Regions from separate parts of the Homo sapiens genome. Here region 2 is linked to region 1. The links come from fine-mapping of genetic effects on gene expression. Tissue or cell type: whole blood. Region 1 holds a variant in brackets; the other region holds the start of a gene. All regions are shown on one strand. Distances are from middle to middle.

Evidence for each region. PIP is the estimated chance that this variant, and not a neighbour inherited with it, causes the effect.
Region 2: RTKN starts here. The variant in region 1 is fine-mapped to the expression of RTKN in whole blood (TOPMed, PIP above 0.99).

The regions. Positions count from the first base shown.
Region 1 is chr2:74,541,018-74,549,118 of GRCh38, reverse strand. All of the region lies in intron 4 of LOXL3 (lysyl oxidase like 3), which reads left to right. It also overlaps a transcript of DOK1 not described here. Among named protein-coding and RNA genes, the nearest start is that of LOXL3, 8.9 kb to the left of the region's middle. RefSeq lists a silencer at 23-342 and an enhancer at 2,904-3,073. The variant G/T (reference allele first, on the strand shown) is at 3,130.
Region 2 is chr2:74,437,525-74,445,625 of GRCh38, reverse strand. It overlaps RTKN (rhotekin), which reads left to right and starts at 3,689. Exons shown (of 12, transcript NM_001015055.2): 1 at 3,689-3,920. The coding sequence starts at 3,810. RefSeq lists silencers at 3,599-3,678, 3,989-4,048, 4,764-5,073 and an enhancer at 5,501-6,238.

The DNA.
Region 1 (8,101 bases):
CAGGCGGATTCCTCGGCCCCGGGGCGCGCGCCGGCCTCGCGAGGCCACTCCCAGGCGCGGGGGCGATTCCAGCGCTGGCGCTGCCGGCCAGCGATTTCCGAGTTCAGTAAGGACGCGGCCGCCCCTGGGAGGCGGCGCCTGGGTGTGTCCCGCGCAGGCTGGGCGCCCAGGGTCCGGGGGCCCGGGGACGGCGGCGCGCGATGGCCGAAGGGCGCCAGGAGAGACCGCGCCAGTCTCTCTGCCCGGGCCGCCCCGGGGCGGGGCGCGTATGTGAACGCTCGAGCCCTCGGGGCTCCTGGAAGTCCTGGAAGTTTCCCAGGATCTCTTTTGGCGAGGCCCAACCTCTCCACCTGCGCTGGAGCCCTGGGGTCCAGTCCGGCTTCCAGGGAAACGCATCACCCTGGAAACTGCCTGTGCTTAACGTCTCCCTTCCCTGGAACATCTACTTTGATCTTTTTGAGAAACTGCCATTGACAGCCAGGCATTTATTTGGAAATCTTTACACCCTCTCACTGTAATCTATTTTGCGAGCCAAAAATCCTCCCTTTCTTCAGTGGTTCCCTAGATCAGTATTGCTGAAAGGCCTCTTGATGTCCGGATAGGTTTCCGCGGGCACACTACTTCAGATGGGGTCTGATGCCGCCAGCTACTGTAGAAATCCTCAACCCCGACTGAAGCGTGCTCGGATTACACTGTCTTCCTACTGCGGCAGCTTCCCACTGCTTATACTGAACTTGTCATCACTTAAAACCAGTTCAGGTCTTCCCTATGCTTCCTACTGATAGAGCAGCCTTTTCCAACCCAGGTATAGGTGACGTTTACCTATTACATTTGTTTTGATACATAATTTAGAAGCCATAAAAAAGCCATGATGATCCCATGAGATTATCTTGAGTCCTGATGTGACTTTCCATCTGTCATTTCCCCTCAGCCTCCTCTGCTGAACAGACATGGCAGCTTTGCCTTCTGGCTTCATCCAAATGGCTAAAAGTTGTTGTGGAAATGTTTAAAACCAAAGTCTAACTCTTCTTGCAAAATGTTCCTGTAGATTTTCATCAAGCTTCTAATCATCAGCTGTAAAATATGTTCCTTCCACCAACTGGGAAGAAACAGAACACTTCAATGATGTAACCAACATTTCACCTTATCTATCTATATATTTCTTATCTGTAATGAAATCATGGGAGATTCTGTTAGTTTTTGATAAAATCCAGATATGCTATGTTCACAGCCATTCTCCAGCCTTCCAATTTAGTAATCCTGTCAAAAAAGAAAATCATAGTAGTTTGAGTCTATTTTTACTGAAATCCTTTTAGGTCTCTAAGAATCACCTTATTTTTTCCTAAATGCTTACAAACTTCTATTTAATAATTTATTCTAGAATATTACTTATGTGTAGATTGAGGAATTGAGGAATCCTTTTTCTCCTTTTTTTTTTTTCTTTTGAAAGTCAGGATATTATCCAGTCTCCAGTCTTTTCTATACCTGCTCACACTTTCTTTGCCTTGGCTCTGAGGCTCATCTGAAATGTCTTTCAGTACTGAGGACTTTCGGTACTTTATCTGGCCTGGACACTCAAACCACTTTAAAACAAACGTGCTGTGCCTCTTTACTTTCATCCATCTTGGGGCTGCATTTCCTTCTCTGTGCTGCTTACCTTCCCTAATTTAAACCCCATGTTCTGAAAGATGCGTAGAATTTAGACATTTCCAGTGAAGAAGATAGCGTGAACAAAGGTGTAGAGATCCACTCACCCAATATTTATTTACTGAGATCTTACTATGTGCCAGGTACTGTTGTAGACACTACCCGTGGCTCATGCCTATAATCCCAGGACTTTGGGAGGCCACGGTGGAAGCATTATTTGAGCCCAAGAATTCGAGACCAGCCTGGGCAACATAATGAGACCCTGTCTCTACAGATAATTTTTTAAAAATAAAATTAGCTGAACATGGTGGTGCGTGCCTGTAGTCCCAGCTACTTGGGAGGCTGAGGTGGGAAGATTGCTTGAGCCCAGGAAGTCAAGGCTGCAGTGAGCTGTGATCATGCCACTACACTGCCTGGGTGGCAGAGCAAGACCCTGTCTCAAAAAATAAATTAACTAAGGCCGGGCACGGTGGCTCACACCTGTAATCCCAGCACTTTGGGAGGTCGAGGCGCGGATCACCTGAGGTCAGGAGTTCGAGACCAGCCTGACCAACATGGAGAAACCCCATCTCTACTAAAAATACAAAACTAGCCGGGTGTGGTGGCGCATGACTGTAATCCCAGCTACTCGGGAGGCTGAGGCGGGAGAATGGCTTGAACCCGGGAGGCGGAGGTTGCGGTGAGCTGAGATCGCGCCATTGCACTCCAGCCTGGGCAACAAGAGCGAAACTCCGTCTCAAATAAAAATAAAATAAAAATAAATTAAGTAAGTAAGTAAATAAATAAGTGGTGAAGGAAGGCCTCTTGGAGAAGGCATCATTTGAGAAAAGATTTAAAGGAGGTGAGGGCACAAGCTATGCAGACCTCTAGATAAACATTTCTAGGAAGAGGGATCAAAAATGAAAATATTCTGGGGTGTGTGTGTGCCTGTGTGTGTATGTAGTGGGTGATGGGATAAGGCCTCTCCTTCTCCTGGAGGCCACTGTGGCTGGAGCTGAGTGAAAAAGAAGAAAATGGTAGGAGATGCAGTGTAGGTGGTCTTCGGAAAAGAATGGGAAGCCAGATCCTGCGGGCCATCTGGGAGAGGATGGCTTTTGTTCTGTGGGAGATAAGGAACCACTGGAGGGCTTGGAGCAGAGGTGTGACATCGGGCTTCCATTTTTTTTTCAGTACTACTTTCACTGCTTTATTAGGAATAGATTGTAAGGGATGCAGTAGAAGCAAGAAGTCAGGTGGCTGGTTATGGGGTTATTGTCTTCTGAAAGCCACGTAAAGAAAGTGAAAGGTGATGGTGACCAGTGAAAGTGGTGAAAAATGATCAAGATTTACAGACAGTTGAAGGCAGAGCTATAGGACTTGCTGATGGATTCAGTGTGATGTGAGAGAGAGGAGTTAAGGCTCTCTCCAGGTTTTTGGCCTCAGCTAAGTAAGAAATTGGCCTCACCTGACAAGGAAAACAGTGAATGGAGCATGTTTTGTTGG[G/T]AGATGGGCTTGGGGGTGGAGGGTAGGAACTTGGTTTTAGACCTGTTAAATTTAAGATTCTTTAAGACATTGAAGTGGCGAGGCTAAGTTAGGTAATTTAATATAGGACTCTGGAGTTCAGTTGAGTAAAACATATAAAGTCCTGAAACTGGACAACATACCAAGGAAGTGAATGTAAATTTAAAAGACAGAGAGAGGCCCAGAGACTGAACCTTGGGGAGACTAAATATTTAAAAGTCAGAAGATAAGATGAATGCAAACAGTGAGGTGAGGTAGGAAGAAAACCAGGGGAGTGTGGTGGCCTGGGAGCCAAGTAAAGTGCTTCGAAGAGGAGAGAGTGACCAGCTAAGTCAGTGCTGCCCAGACCTAAAAACATGAGGACTGAGAAACAAATGCTGGATTTAGCAACAGTAAAGTCACTGTTGGCCCCAACAGAGATGATAATGAATGGTTTATATTTGGAAGACAGTAAGTTAGCAAGAGTAGGTTTATACTGAGAAATAGTGGAAGATCTGGATAAAGGGAGGCCAGAAAATGGAATGCTTTAGGTGCCAAATTGGAGAGTTTGGCCTTTGCCTTATAGAAAAATTACAAATAAAGGTATTTATATGGGACAAGAATAAAGCCAGTGTTTTTGAAAGTTTGCCTGATAGTAGTGGATGAGGAGAGGAGGGTCTTGATGCAGTAAGACCAGTCAGGAGTTTGTTCTAAAATTGAAGCTTATCAGGAGGGTAAAAACAAAGATGGAGGAAAATGAATAGATGTAGGATGACTGATAGAACATAGAGAATGAGAGAACAGACACCTAAAATGATTCCGATGCTGCCTGAGAGAAGGATGGTACCAGCAGCCATCTCTGGGCTTCAGGTTAATATGAACTAGCTTTAGAGATGGGCTGTCCTTGGAAAGTTTGAGACACAGGAATTGTCCCCAGGTATGCAAAGCTGAAATAAGTTTTAGGGATCAGGAATATTTGTTGGACATATCGGAATCTCATACTAAGTCTGGGATATAAAGGCTGGAGAAAGAGATACACTAAAGCACAGAGGCCATTCTTCGTGGGGAAAGAGATTGCGGGAGCCCTGGGAGATTCTGTGATGGGGCTATGATCTAGATCCTTCACAGGTCAGGCCCAGCAGAGGGAGCATTCTCACAGGTGATACAATTATTACAATTATGAAAGATAGGCAAGACAGTTGTAAACAACTCTCCCCTCCTTAGGGAAAAAAAATGGATCTGCTGGCTTTTAGAGGAAGTCAGTAAGATTTAGGGAATGAGAAAATCAAAACCTGATGTATTAATCATTTTTCAATTTGTTTTGGTAGTTCTACCCTAGAACATGTAAAAGTTGTAGAACTTTAGAATAAGAAAAGAATGTACAGATAATTGAACTATTTACTACTCTTTTACAGGTAATGAAATTGAGGCTCTAAGAGCTTCAGTGCTATTTAAGAAGTCACTCTTCTAGTTCATTTCAGCTTGACAGATGTTTATTGAACTCCTATTTGCCAAGTACTGTGCAAGGTGCTGAGAATACAAAGGTGAATAAATGACAAGAGAGGTTATTAGGCTGCAGATCATAGAAGACCTTATAGGCCATCATAAGGATTCAGGTCCTTATGATAAAAGGATTGGGAAGCCTTTGATGTTTGGATTGTTTGTTTGTTTGTTTTGTTTGTTTGTTTTTTTGAGAGGGAGTCTGGCTTGTTGCCCAGGCTGGAGTGCAGTGGCACAATCTCTGCTCACTGCAACCTCCACCTCCCTGGGTTCAAGTGATTCTTCTGCTTCAGCCTCCTGAGTGGCTAGGTCTACAGGTGCCCACCACGCCCAGCTAATTTTTGTATTTTTAGTAGAGACGAGGTTTCACCATGCTCGCCAGGCTGGTCTTGAACTCCTGACCTCAGGTGATCCGCCTACCTCGGCCTCCCAAAGTGCTGGGCTTACAGGCTTGAGCCACCGTGCCCGGCCATTGAAGTGTTTTAATGGGGAGGGCTATGAGATGGCATGATCAGGTTTGTGACTCCAAAAGATCATTTGAATCTATTTCTTTTTTTTCTTTTCTTTTCTTTTTTTTTTTTTTTTTTTTTTTGAGACAGAGCCTTGCTTTGTCACCCAGGCTGGAGTGTACTGGTGCAATCTTGGTTCACTGCAACCTCCGCCTCCTGGGTTCAAGCAATTCTCCTACCTCAGCCTCTCGAGTAGCTGGGATTACGGGCACGCGCCACCATGCCCAGCTAATTTGCTGATTTTTGGGTATTTTTAGTAAAGATGGGGTTTCTCCATGTTGCCCAGGCTGGTCTTGATCTCCTGACCTCAGGATCAGATCAAGTGATCTGCCTGTCCTGGCCTCCCAAAGTGCTGGGATTACAGCTATGAGCCACCACGCCCCGCCTTTGACTCTATTTCTGAGAATAATCAGGAGAGGAGCAAAAGATATGGATTGGAGAGATATTTAGAAGTAAAATTGACAGGACTTGGTTATTGATTGACTTTGGGATCCAAGAAAGGGAGAAGTCAGGATTGACCCCTAGGTTTCTGGAGTGGATTTTACTGAGATAATTATCTTTTTTTTTTGGACCTACATTACATTTCAGATTACTTTCAGATCTCTACCTAGAAACATCAAGAAGGCAATGAAATAGACAAGATTATGAATACACTAGGTGTGAATTAGACCATATAGAGGGCCCTATATGAAGTGAGAACAAAATGCCTAAGAAAGAGCTCCACAAATTTTAATGACCAGATAGGGGAGGAGCCTGCAGAGAAGACCAAGAAAGAGCAACCAGAATTAGGAGTAGGCGGCTCTAGGCACACTGCCTAGGAGTCAGCCCTGCTCCCTGGGGAGCCACTCTGGAAATTAATAATAATAATAAGCAGAATTAGGAATAAAACCAGGATATTGTAGTGTTATAGCAGCCAAGGAAAGAGAGGACAGTCAGATGTTGCAGAGAGGTCATTAAGATGAAGACTGAAAAATGTCTGCTGGATTTAACAAAATAGAAGTTTGCAGAGTGATAGGTAGGGAAAACCAGAGGAAGTGGGTTGAAAAATGAGTAAGAGGAGGCTGGGCATGGTGGCTCACACCTGTAATCCCAGCACTTTGGGAGGCCAAGGCAGGTGAATCACCTGAGATCAGGAGTTTGAGACCAGCCTGGCCAACATGATGAAACTCCGTCTCTACTAAAAATACAAAAATTAGCTGGCTGTGGTGGTGCGTGCCTGTAATCCCAGCTACCTGGGAGGCTGAGGCAGGAGAATTGCTGAGCCCAGGAGGCGGAGGTTGCAGTGAGCCAAGATTGCACCACTGCACTCCAGCCTGAGTGACAGATCGAGACTCTGTCTCAAAAAAAAAAAAAAAAAGTAGGAAGAGAGGATATAAAGATGATAAGTATGGACAGCTCTTGAGAAATGTTACTGTGAAGGGGAGGAGAGATAAGTAGAGGGTGTGTGTGTGTGTGTGTGTGTGCATGTGTAGGAGTGATTTGAATGTTTAAAAGGATTCAGTTGAGAAAAAGAAATGGTATGCAGGACTGAGAAAAATTGTAAGAGATGGAATTTAGAAACATTTAGGTACAGTAGACTTAGAGAAGAAAAATAGTTGAAAGGTATGAGAAGAGGATATGCAAATGTAGACAGGTTTTTGTTTTGGGTTTTTTCTTTGTTTGTTTGTTTGTTTGTTTGATTCCTTGTTTTTGAGACAGGGTCTCTCTATGTTGACCAGGCCAGAGTGCAGTGGCGCCATCATGGCTCACTGCAACCTCGACCTCTTGGGCTCAAGCGATCATCCCATCTCAGCCTCCTGAGTAGCTGGAACTACAGGCTCGAGCCACCACACCCGGCTAATTTTTAAATTTTTTGTAGAGACGAGGTCTCACTGTGTTGCCCAGGCTGGTCTCAAACTTCTGGGCTCAAGCAGTCCTCCTGCCTCAGCCTCCCAAAGTGCTGGGATTACAGGCGTAAGCCGCTGCCCCTGGCCTACATAGGTTTTTATGTTTGATGGCTGAAGGAAGGAACAAATGGTAGGTGGAAACAAACACATCTGTGAATGAAGAAATTTAAATCAAGACAAATAACAGCACTGGTCCTCAATGAGGACAAAGTCCTTAACATAACTTATATATAATTTTATATATAAAATATTTATAAGATAAAAGGGTCTAAACTCTTTTATATAAATATGAAATAAGATTACATATGTTTGTGTATATATATATATAAATAATACAAAGACCTGTTGATATAAGGTCCTTAAATAATTTAGAGAAGAGGTACTTCTAAATTTCTAGATAATACCAAAATGTTTTAGTACTACTCTGGAGATCAAGGTGAACTCTCCAGGTTGATTGGTGAAGAGGCCAAGTGTATTTCATTTTAGACATTTTAGACATGTTTGAGAAAAAGACATTTGGAGAAAAAATTTCACACCATATTTATAAGATGAAAGAGTCTAACTATTAGCAATGTCTCAGTAAAGGGACCTGAGAGTTGTATATTCTTTGCCAGGAATGTCCAACACTTTGGACACTTTGGCAAAGAGACCAACTAAGTACATCCTCAGGAAGAAGCTGAGGCAGAAAATATCAAACAGCTTCTGACTGGTTTAAAATATATACGTATATTTAAATCCCAAGGTGTCTTCACACATTAAACAGTCATCCCTCAGTAACCATGGGGGATTGGTTCTAGGATCTCCCAAGGATACCACAATTCAAAGATGCTCAAGTCCCTGATATAAAATGCTATAGTATTTGCATATAACCTATGCACATCCTCTGTATGCTTTAAATCATCTCTAGATTACTTATAATACCTAACATAATGTAAATGCTACATAAGTAGTTGTTATATTTTATTGCTTAGGGAATAATGACAAGAAAAAAAGTTGGTACGTGTTCAGTACAGATGGAGGTTGAATCTACAGATGCAGAGCCCATGGATATGGAAGGCCAGCTGTACTATGTTGAAATAT
Region 2 (8,101 bases), 100 kb after region 1:
TGCAGTGTATTATCATGGCACCACTTTGCTCTAGCTGGGTAACAGAGTGATATATATTATATAAATATATATATATAATATAATATAATATAATCCTGATCATGTCCCTCCTTCCCAAAAATCTTCAGCCACATTGAGTACAAACTCTCAGGCAGGATTTGAGCTCAACCTCCTTTTTGAAGATCCTCCATTCCTCTGCCTCCTTCCTGGGTCTCAGGCCAGGGGTTTTCAAACCCGTCCACAGAGCTTGTGTTCACTGGGGGAGCAGGGAGCAGCTGAGCACCTGTGGGTAGACAAGGCATGAGGCTCTAGCACCTGCTCCCATCATAGCAGCTCTGATTTGATTTCACACATTTCAGGTAAGATTTCATTAAAAAAAAAAGGTTCTGTTGCTTAAAAACAAACATTTGAAATGAACTATCTTAGTCCAACAGGATGGCACATCTCAGTCAAGGACTCTCAAATCTGTTTGCTTCTCTTTTATTTACTTCAACTGATGTTTATTGATCACTTGCTATGTCCCAGGCACTGGGGATAAGACAGACTGCCCCTCCCTAGAAGGCTTACAGTTCAGAGGAGTGATGATGAATATTTGAATAAATTAAGGAACAATATCTTTCCCTTTCTTTCCCCTCACACGTCTTTTGTGGTTAATCTCAGATGCCATGGACTTTATAAATCTTTTGATCTGCCTTTCCTACTGACCAGAAGAACTCCCTTCTCCATATAAAATTTTGTGTGTGGAGGATGTTGGTTGTTTTTCCTGTTCATTTTCCATTCTCTCACCTTCTGGTGGTAGTGGTTGGAACATTCTTTGGGGAACAACCCTCCCCCACCTTCTCCCTCCCAGTTCACTGGGTTCTGGTTAGTCTCCAGGAGTGGGCAAGTGACCCCAAGCCTGGCCAGCTGGCACCTAGAACCTCCTTAGCCACAGCAATTGGTTCAGATCTGGCCACCGTCTGACTCCAATGATTGGTTTGGGATGGATGAATGATCACAAATGTCTCACAGCGAATCCCAGACGTGTAGGAGCCTCAGGAAACAGATGCTCTCTTTTCAGCTGAATTTAAGCCTGAAAAGATATAGACCCAGAATTTTGGGCAGCAATTTCGTTACACTGTGGAGAGTGAAGCCAACGTGGAGGAAAGTAGAGCCAAGTGATGGGAAGAGACTGGATATTCCTGACACTCAATGAGTGGGTTAAGCCACATCTAAAGCTTGACCCCTGGCTCATTTGTTTGTATTGGCTCAGTTCCAGGAGCCGATGCATTTCCCCTTTTGCTTTAGTACTTTTCAGTCAGCTTTTCCAAAAGAATGTTGAAATGATTTGCCATAGCAAAACATTTCTAATCTGGACTCTCTAAGAGCTCAAGACTGGTATGTCTCTGGGTCCAGCCAGCCTGCCATGTAGGAGTCTCACCCTTTCTCAAGTTCTGTGTTCTGAAGCCTTCAGGAGATCTGTTTATGTGTGATCAGCAAGTTAATCCTTTGCCATTTCCTTCTCTTCCACTGGGCTTTCCCCAGAGGGGGCAAGAAGGGAACCCTGTTTTTTGTTTGTTTGTTTGTTTGTTTGAGACAGAGTCTCGCTCTGTCGCCCAGGCTGGAGTGCAGTGGCACGATCTCGGCTCAGTGCAAGCTCCGCCTCCCAGGTTCAGGGCATTCTCCTGCCTCAGCCTCCTGAGTAGCTGGGACTACAGGCGCCCGCCACCATGCCCGGCTAATTTTTTTGTATATTTAGTAGAGACGGGTTTTCACCGTGTTAGCCAGGATGGTTTCGATCTCCTGACCTCGTGATCTGCCCCCCTTGGTCTCCCAAAGTGCTGGGATTACAGGCGTGAGCCACCGCGCCTAGCGGGAACCCTGTTTTTATGGAAGCAGGGAGTGGTAAGTCCAGCCGGGCAAGTCCAGCCATCCAGCAAAGCAGCTGATTATATCTATATCTATCTATATCTATATCTATATCTATATCTATATCTATATCTATATCTATATCTATATCTATATCTATCTATATCTATATCTATCTATAGATAGATAATATTGGCCAGGCGTGGGCCACGCCTGAAATCCCAGCACTTTGGGAGACCAAGGCGGGTGTATCGCCTGAGGTCAAGAGTTTGAGACCAGCCTTACCAACATGGTGTAACCCCATCTCTACTAAAAATACAAAAATTAGCCAGATATGGTGGCAGACGCCTGTAATCCCAGCTACTCCGGAGGCTGAGGCAGGAGAATCGATTGAACCCAGGAGGCAGAGGTTGCAGTGAGTCGAGATCATGCCATTGCACTCCAGCCTGGGTGACAGAGTGAGACTCTGTCTTAAAAAAAAAAAATTAAAATAAATAAATAAATAAATAAATAAAAATAAAAAATTATACATATTTGTAATGCTTTTTAAGAGATGGGGTCCCACTATGTTGCCCAGGCTGGACTTGAACTTTCGGGCTCAAGCAATCCTCCCACCTTAGCCTCCCGAGTAGCTGGGACTACAGGTGTGCACCACCATGCCAGGCCAATTTGTGTGTGTGTGTGCGTGTGTGTGTGTGTTTTGTTGAGACAGGGTTTCATGTTGCCCAGGCTGGTCTCCAACTCCTGAGCTCAAGAGCGATCAGTCCCCCTTGGCCTCCCAAAGTGCTAGGATTACAGGCTTGAGCCACTGCACCCAGCCATCTTTTTTTTAGACGTAGTTTCGCTCTTGTTTCCAAGGGTGGAGTGCAATGGTGGGGTCTCAGCTCACCACAACCTCTGCTTCCCGGGTTTAAGCGATTCTCCTGCCTCAGCCTCTCAAGTAGTTGGGATTACCGGCATGTGCCACCATGGCCGGCTAAATTTTGTATTTTTAGTAGAGATGGGGTTTCTCCATGTTGGTCAGGCTGGTCTCGAACTCCCAACCTCAGGTGATCCACCCTCCTAGGCCTCCCAAAGTGCTGCGATTACAGGCGTGAGCCACCGCGCGCAGCTGCTCTTTATGACTGCAAATATGGGGCACTTGCCTTGTGCCAGGCACTATGCTGGGCATTTTACCCTCATTCTTATAGGTAATCCTCATAGCAACTTGAGGAGTGGAGATAATTACAGTATTCCCACTGAACAAATGAGAAAACTGAAGCTCAGAAAGGCCAGTGACTGGACCAAGTTAATGATTGCACGGTTAGTTAGTGACAGAGCTGGGGTTTCACGACGTGTTTAAGCACCGCCCCATCAGTTGTGGCCACTAGGCTTAGGCGGATAGCCTCGCAGAGGAGCCTAGGTGGGGAGGGGGACGAAGAAGGAACATTTGGGACTGTGGGATGTTGAAATGGTCTCTTCGGAGGCTGCCGGGATTGAAACTGGGCAAGGTCCCAGGGCCCGAGTAGAGCCAGAGCGTGCTACGCGGCGATCCCTGAGCCACGGGGTTTTCAGCGCCCGGGAAGCCAGGCTTGCCAGGTTGGGGCGGCTGGCGGGGCAGGGCTTCTCGGTCCGTCCCAAGTCCAGGTAGGCGCTCGCGACCCGCGCGGGCAGGGAGAACGCGCTCCCACAGTGCTCGCGAGGTGCAGTGCGCCCCTGGGGGCTCCGGGGCCGTCGGGCCAGGTCGGCTTGGCGCCCAGGGACTGGCCGGACGGGCTGGGCCTTTGGCGGGGGTGGAAGAGGAGGTTGCCGCGCCCTGCCCGGCCCAGGTGTCGTCTCCGGGGGCGGGGTTTGGAGCCCCGCAGCGGGAGATTCCCGGCCGGACTGGCGGACGAGCGTCGAGAGACAGAAGCCGAGGAGAGGAGGCTAAGCCGGGCGGCGCGGGGAGCGCACTGAGCAGGCAAAGTCGCAGGGCCGCCAGCATGTTCTCCCGAAACCACCGGAGCCGGGTCACCGTGGCCAGGGGCTCCGCCCTGGAGATGGAGTTCAAACGCGGCCGCTTCCGACTCAGCCTCTTCAGCGACCTGCCCGAGGTGAGAGACTCGCGTCCCTGCCTTCCCCTTCCGCGGCTCCCGGGGGCAGCCCCAGCCACCTCGGCCTCCTTCCCTCGCCCGCGTGCACGCCGAGGGGCGGAGACGCACGGTCTGGGTACAAACCCGACGGAGTTGTTGACTTAAAAAGTAAGGTGTGGACGGTCTGCATTTTCATCGGATCCATGCTGCCCATTCCGCGGCCTGGTTAGGATTATCTGCCTGAGCCTGGAAAAAGCCCGGGTTGGTCTCAATTTGTAGGGCCCCAGCTCGACTCCTAAAATGTGCCTGAACCCCAAAATGTCTTGGGCATCCCCGGGCCAAGGGCGGTGGGCAGCTAGGCGGGCCCCAAGCGCTCGGACTCTTGGCCTGGGCTCCCGCTTGTTCCCCAGTCGCCAGCCCCATCCCACAACCTGTCGCAGCCATCTGGGCCAGCCTCTGTCATCAACCCCGACTTTAGGCCGGGGCCGCTCGCTTCCCCGAAGCCCAATTCAAAGGCTCCTCTATGCCCCTGCAGGGCTTTTAACTCCTTGGGGTTACTTCCCACACGCAAAATTTCCGCCTCCTTTTCTGGGGCCTAAGAGGAGTCCAGCCCCTAGGCTGAGCGTTTCCCCCGTCCGCCGTCCACGCGTTAACCTGTTGGATCCCCACCTGTAACGCCCTAAGGGCTAGGGCGGGGCTGAAGGTGTGTGGTTGAGCGGGGACTGAGAGGGCGAATAGCTACCCCGAAGACTCTTCTGTCCCCAAGGTCAGACTCACACTCGCCCAAGGAGAGCCCAGTTCCAAGCCTTCCCTTCCGGGTCTGGAAAGGGTTAAGTGAGGTGGGCCTTCCTTCCGCCCCCTCTACCTCCCGGCTGGGATTCCAGGCCTGGCTTCTGCCCTTTCCCTCCAGCCTGCCCAGAACAAAGAGGCTCTTTCACACCCTTGTCCCGGCGTCCCGGGCCTTCTCTGACTCAGAAGCTAGTGGACCTGGGGAGAGGGGGCCTTTGTCGCGTCCCCTTGCCCCCAAGCGACTGGGCCCGAGGAACCCGCGTGGGGCCAGCGTGGGGGAGTAAGGGGCGAGGCCCGGGACCAGGGGGAGGGGCCTGTGAGCTGGGGCCGCCCCTGGGATTAGCCCGGCCTTCGGGGACAGCTCGGAGGAGCTGGGGCGGAGCCGCAGGGCCTGGCGGCCGCCGAGTGAAGTGTGACTCCGTGGGCCTGGCGTGGAGGCGGGGGCGCTAGGCTGCAGCTGGCTCGGAATCGGGGCTGGTTTCCTGTCTGGAAGGGAAGGGGCCTGCAGAAGGGAGCGGGGACAGCAGCAGACAGGCACACCCCTGCCTTCCTCTCTCCCTCTCCTCCCTTCTCTGGAAAAGCGAGGTAATTGTGAGCCCAGGGTGGAGCGGGCTGGATGGGGGCCCTGAGTTGGAAGGGGTGGCCCTAGGGCTGGGCTGCTTTGCCAACTCACCCCTTTGTCCCATTCCCTGGGCTCACTCTCCCCTGAGGTCCTCACCTGTGTGGCTCTTTTTCCCAACTTTCTCAAACTAAGCTGGAACCCCTCTCGGGAAGCTCCAACCTCCTGCAAACCCCATGACTCTAGAACCTGCATGAGGCGTCGTTTCCCTGCCCCCTTCCAGTTGTGCCTGCCCCTCACTGCCCTCTCCGCACACAGATTCCCTGTCCACCAGGCCAGGGATGTGGGCGGGGGCTGGGGAGCGGCCAGAGTCGGAATGAAAGGGCCTTTTTCTTCCACAGCTGGGAGAACAGCTGCCACCAAAGCGAGACTGGACACTCTGTGCCTAGAGCCCCCTCTGCAGCTGGCCTTTCCTCCTGGGACCCCACTTATCCTCACTTCGCTTTCTTTTTCTTCCCTGCCTGGCTCCCGGCAGGGCCCCGGAGCAGCAGTGGGCGAGGAAAATTTGTCACAGCAGCCAGAGGGGTTTAACAGGAGTGCAGAGGGATAAGGGCAGCTTCTGCCCTCTGCCCAAGAGCTGGCCACCTCTTTAAAGACTGAGGGAACAGTGGGAGGAGGAACTGTGGGACAGTGTGGTACCTATCTGTCCCCCCTCTGGAGGGGTTGACAAGGGAAAGGGCACCGGGGGGCACAGAGATGCAGGACAGATTGCACATCCTGGAGGACCTGAATATGCTCTACATTCGGCAGATGGCACTCAGCCTGGAGGTAATCCCCCGACCCTTGGAGTACACACCTCCTTCACTTGCATCCCAGCCCCAATCTCTGCCCTGCCCATTCCTGCTACAGCATGGTGGGGAGAGCCAGGCCTGCTTAAAGTGGGAAGAGGGACAGGTGGTTCCCTATGCCTTGTGTTGGGTGCAGTGTGTGGACCCAGGCTCAGTTCTGCCCATCATAGTCTTATGTTTGCAGCAGGGTCTTTACACCTATTTCAGGAAGCTCTGTGGGTGAGTGTAAATGTCTGTTCTGGGGACAAGGGTTCCTTTTAGGCATGGGAAGAAGAGAGGAGTTCAATGTGAGAGAGGTTTACAGAAAGGATGTAGCCTTGCTAGAGAAGAGAAGGACTCTGGGCTATGAGTAAGGATTCTGCTGGCCCTTGAGACAGCAAGGTGCTGTTTATTCGTGTATTTGTTTTTTTCAATTCTTTACAGAGACGAGGTCTCACTATATTGCCCAGGCTGGTCCTGGCTCAAGTGATCTCCCTACCTCGACCTCCCAAAATGCCGAGATTACAGGCGTGAGCCACTGCACCTTGCGCTATGTATTATTAAACACATGTAAATTTTATGTACTATCTGCCAAGCTCTTTTCGACCATAGGATACCTCAGTGAATAAGACAAGAAAGTTCCATTGTAGTGGGAGAACAGAAATATACATACGAACACATAAATAATATCACATAAAGAAATTATGATGAAAATGGGGATGTAATGAAAATCAGATGAGGGAGGCAATGTTAGATGTGGAGGTCAGGGGAAGCCTCTGTTGGGAGATCTTTGAGCTAAGCCCAGGAGGATTTGGAGATATGTGAAGACTGGAGGAAGGGCAAAGGCCCTGATATGAGGATGAGGGTAATATATTTGTGGGAAAGAGAGAGCCAGTGTGGCTGGAATATAGTAGTTGGGGTGGAGCTGATGGGCAGGGGCCAGATCATGCAGGGCCTTGAAGGCCATGATAAGGCACCTGGATTTCACCTTAAGTGTGATGTTGGGCCATGGAAGGGTTTTAAGCAAGGGAATGACTCATGCCATGTTTTTAAATGATGGCTGCTATGGAGAATAGGCTGGTGGGAAGTTGAGGGTAGGGTTGGGGGTGGAGGGTTGGCAAGAGAGTTCGCAAATGTCCACCAGGTGGGAGGCTGTTTCACTCCCACTTCAGGTGGGAGTGAACCTGGTGGTGTGAATTAAAATGCTCATGGTGGAGAAAGGGAGTAGATTTCAAATGGTGGTGGTAGGTCTGACAGGATTTGCTGATGGATTGGATGGGAGGGCAAAGAAAGAGAACTCCAGGATGATTCCCAGGTATGTGGCTAAGCAACTGGGTGGTGTGGCTGTTTACGGAGATGGGGAAGATGGAGGAAGTTGTGGAAGTGACTGCCTGGACCAGGCAGGGGCTGCTGCTGAGAGGTCAGAGGCAGGACTGCAAAGAGTCTAGATCAGGAATGGCAGGATATTGTATGTGCTGTCCCCCCTCAAGCCCTGCCCCCACTCCCTGGATCATAGTAGATGTTACTGGTCAATTTTGGCACTCTTTATCAACGAGCCCAGACCTGGCCTCAGAATCTTTCTCAGGACCGTCTTGGCATAAACTGTGCAGGTTGTGTCCTTCACACAGGTGCCAGCCAGAGGTGAGAGTCCTGGTCTGGTTTCAGCGGCATCAGGAGGGAGCACGTTTATCTAATTTGTTTGCCTGGAGAGGGTCAGCTTTTTCTAATTTGTGGAAAGGTGTCCAGTGAACTCGTTGGGACTCTACCTAATTATCCTCCATCAGTGCATGAGATAAAACCTATTTGCCATTCATAGTCCTCTGCACTGTCCACATCAGTTACATATGGCTATTTAAATCTTACTTTTAGTTCATTAAAATAAAACAAAACATTAATTCCTTAGTTGCTGTAGCCATATTTCAAGTGCTAGATGGCTACTGAACATTTCCATCACCGCAGAAGGTTTTATTGGACAGAGCTGGTCTAGGTATGTAAATGTTTAAATTCTGCATCCTACCCTCCTCCAA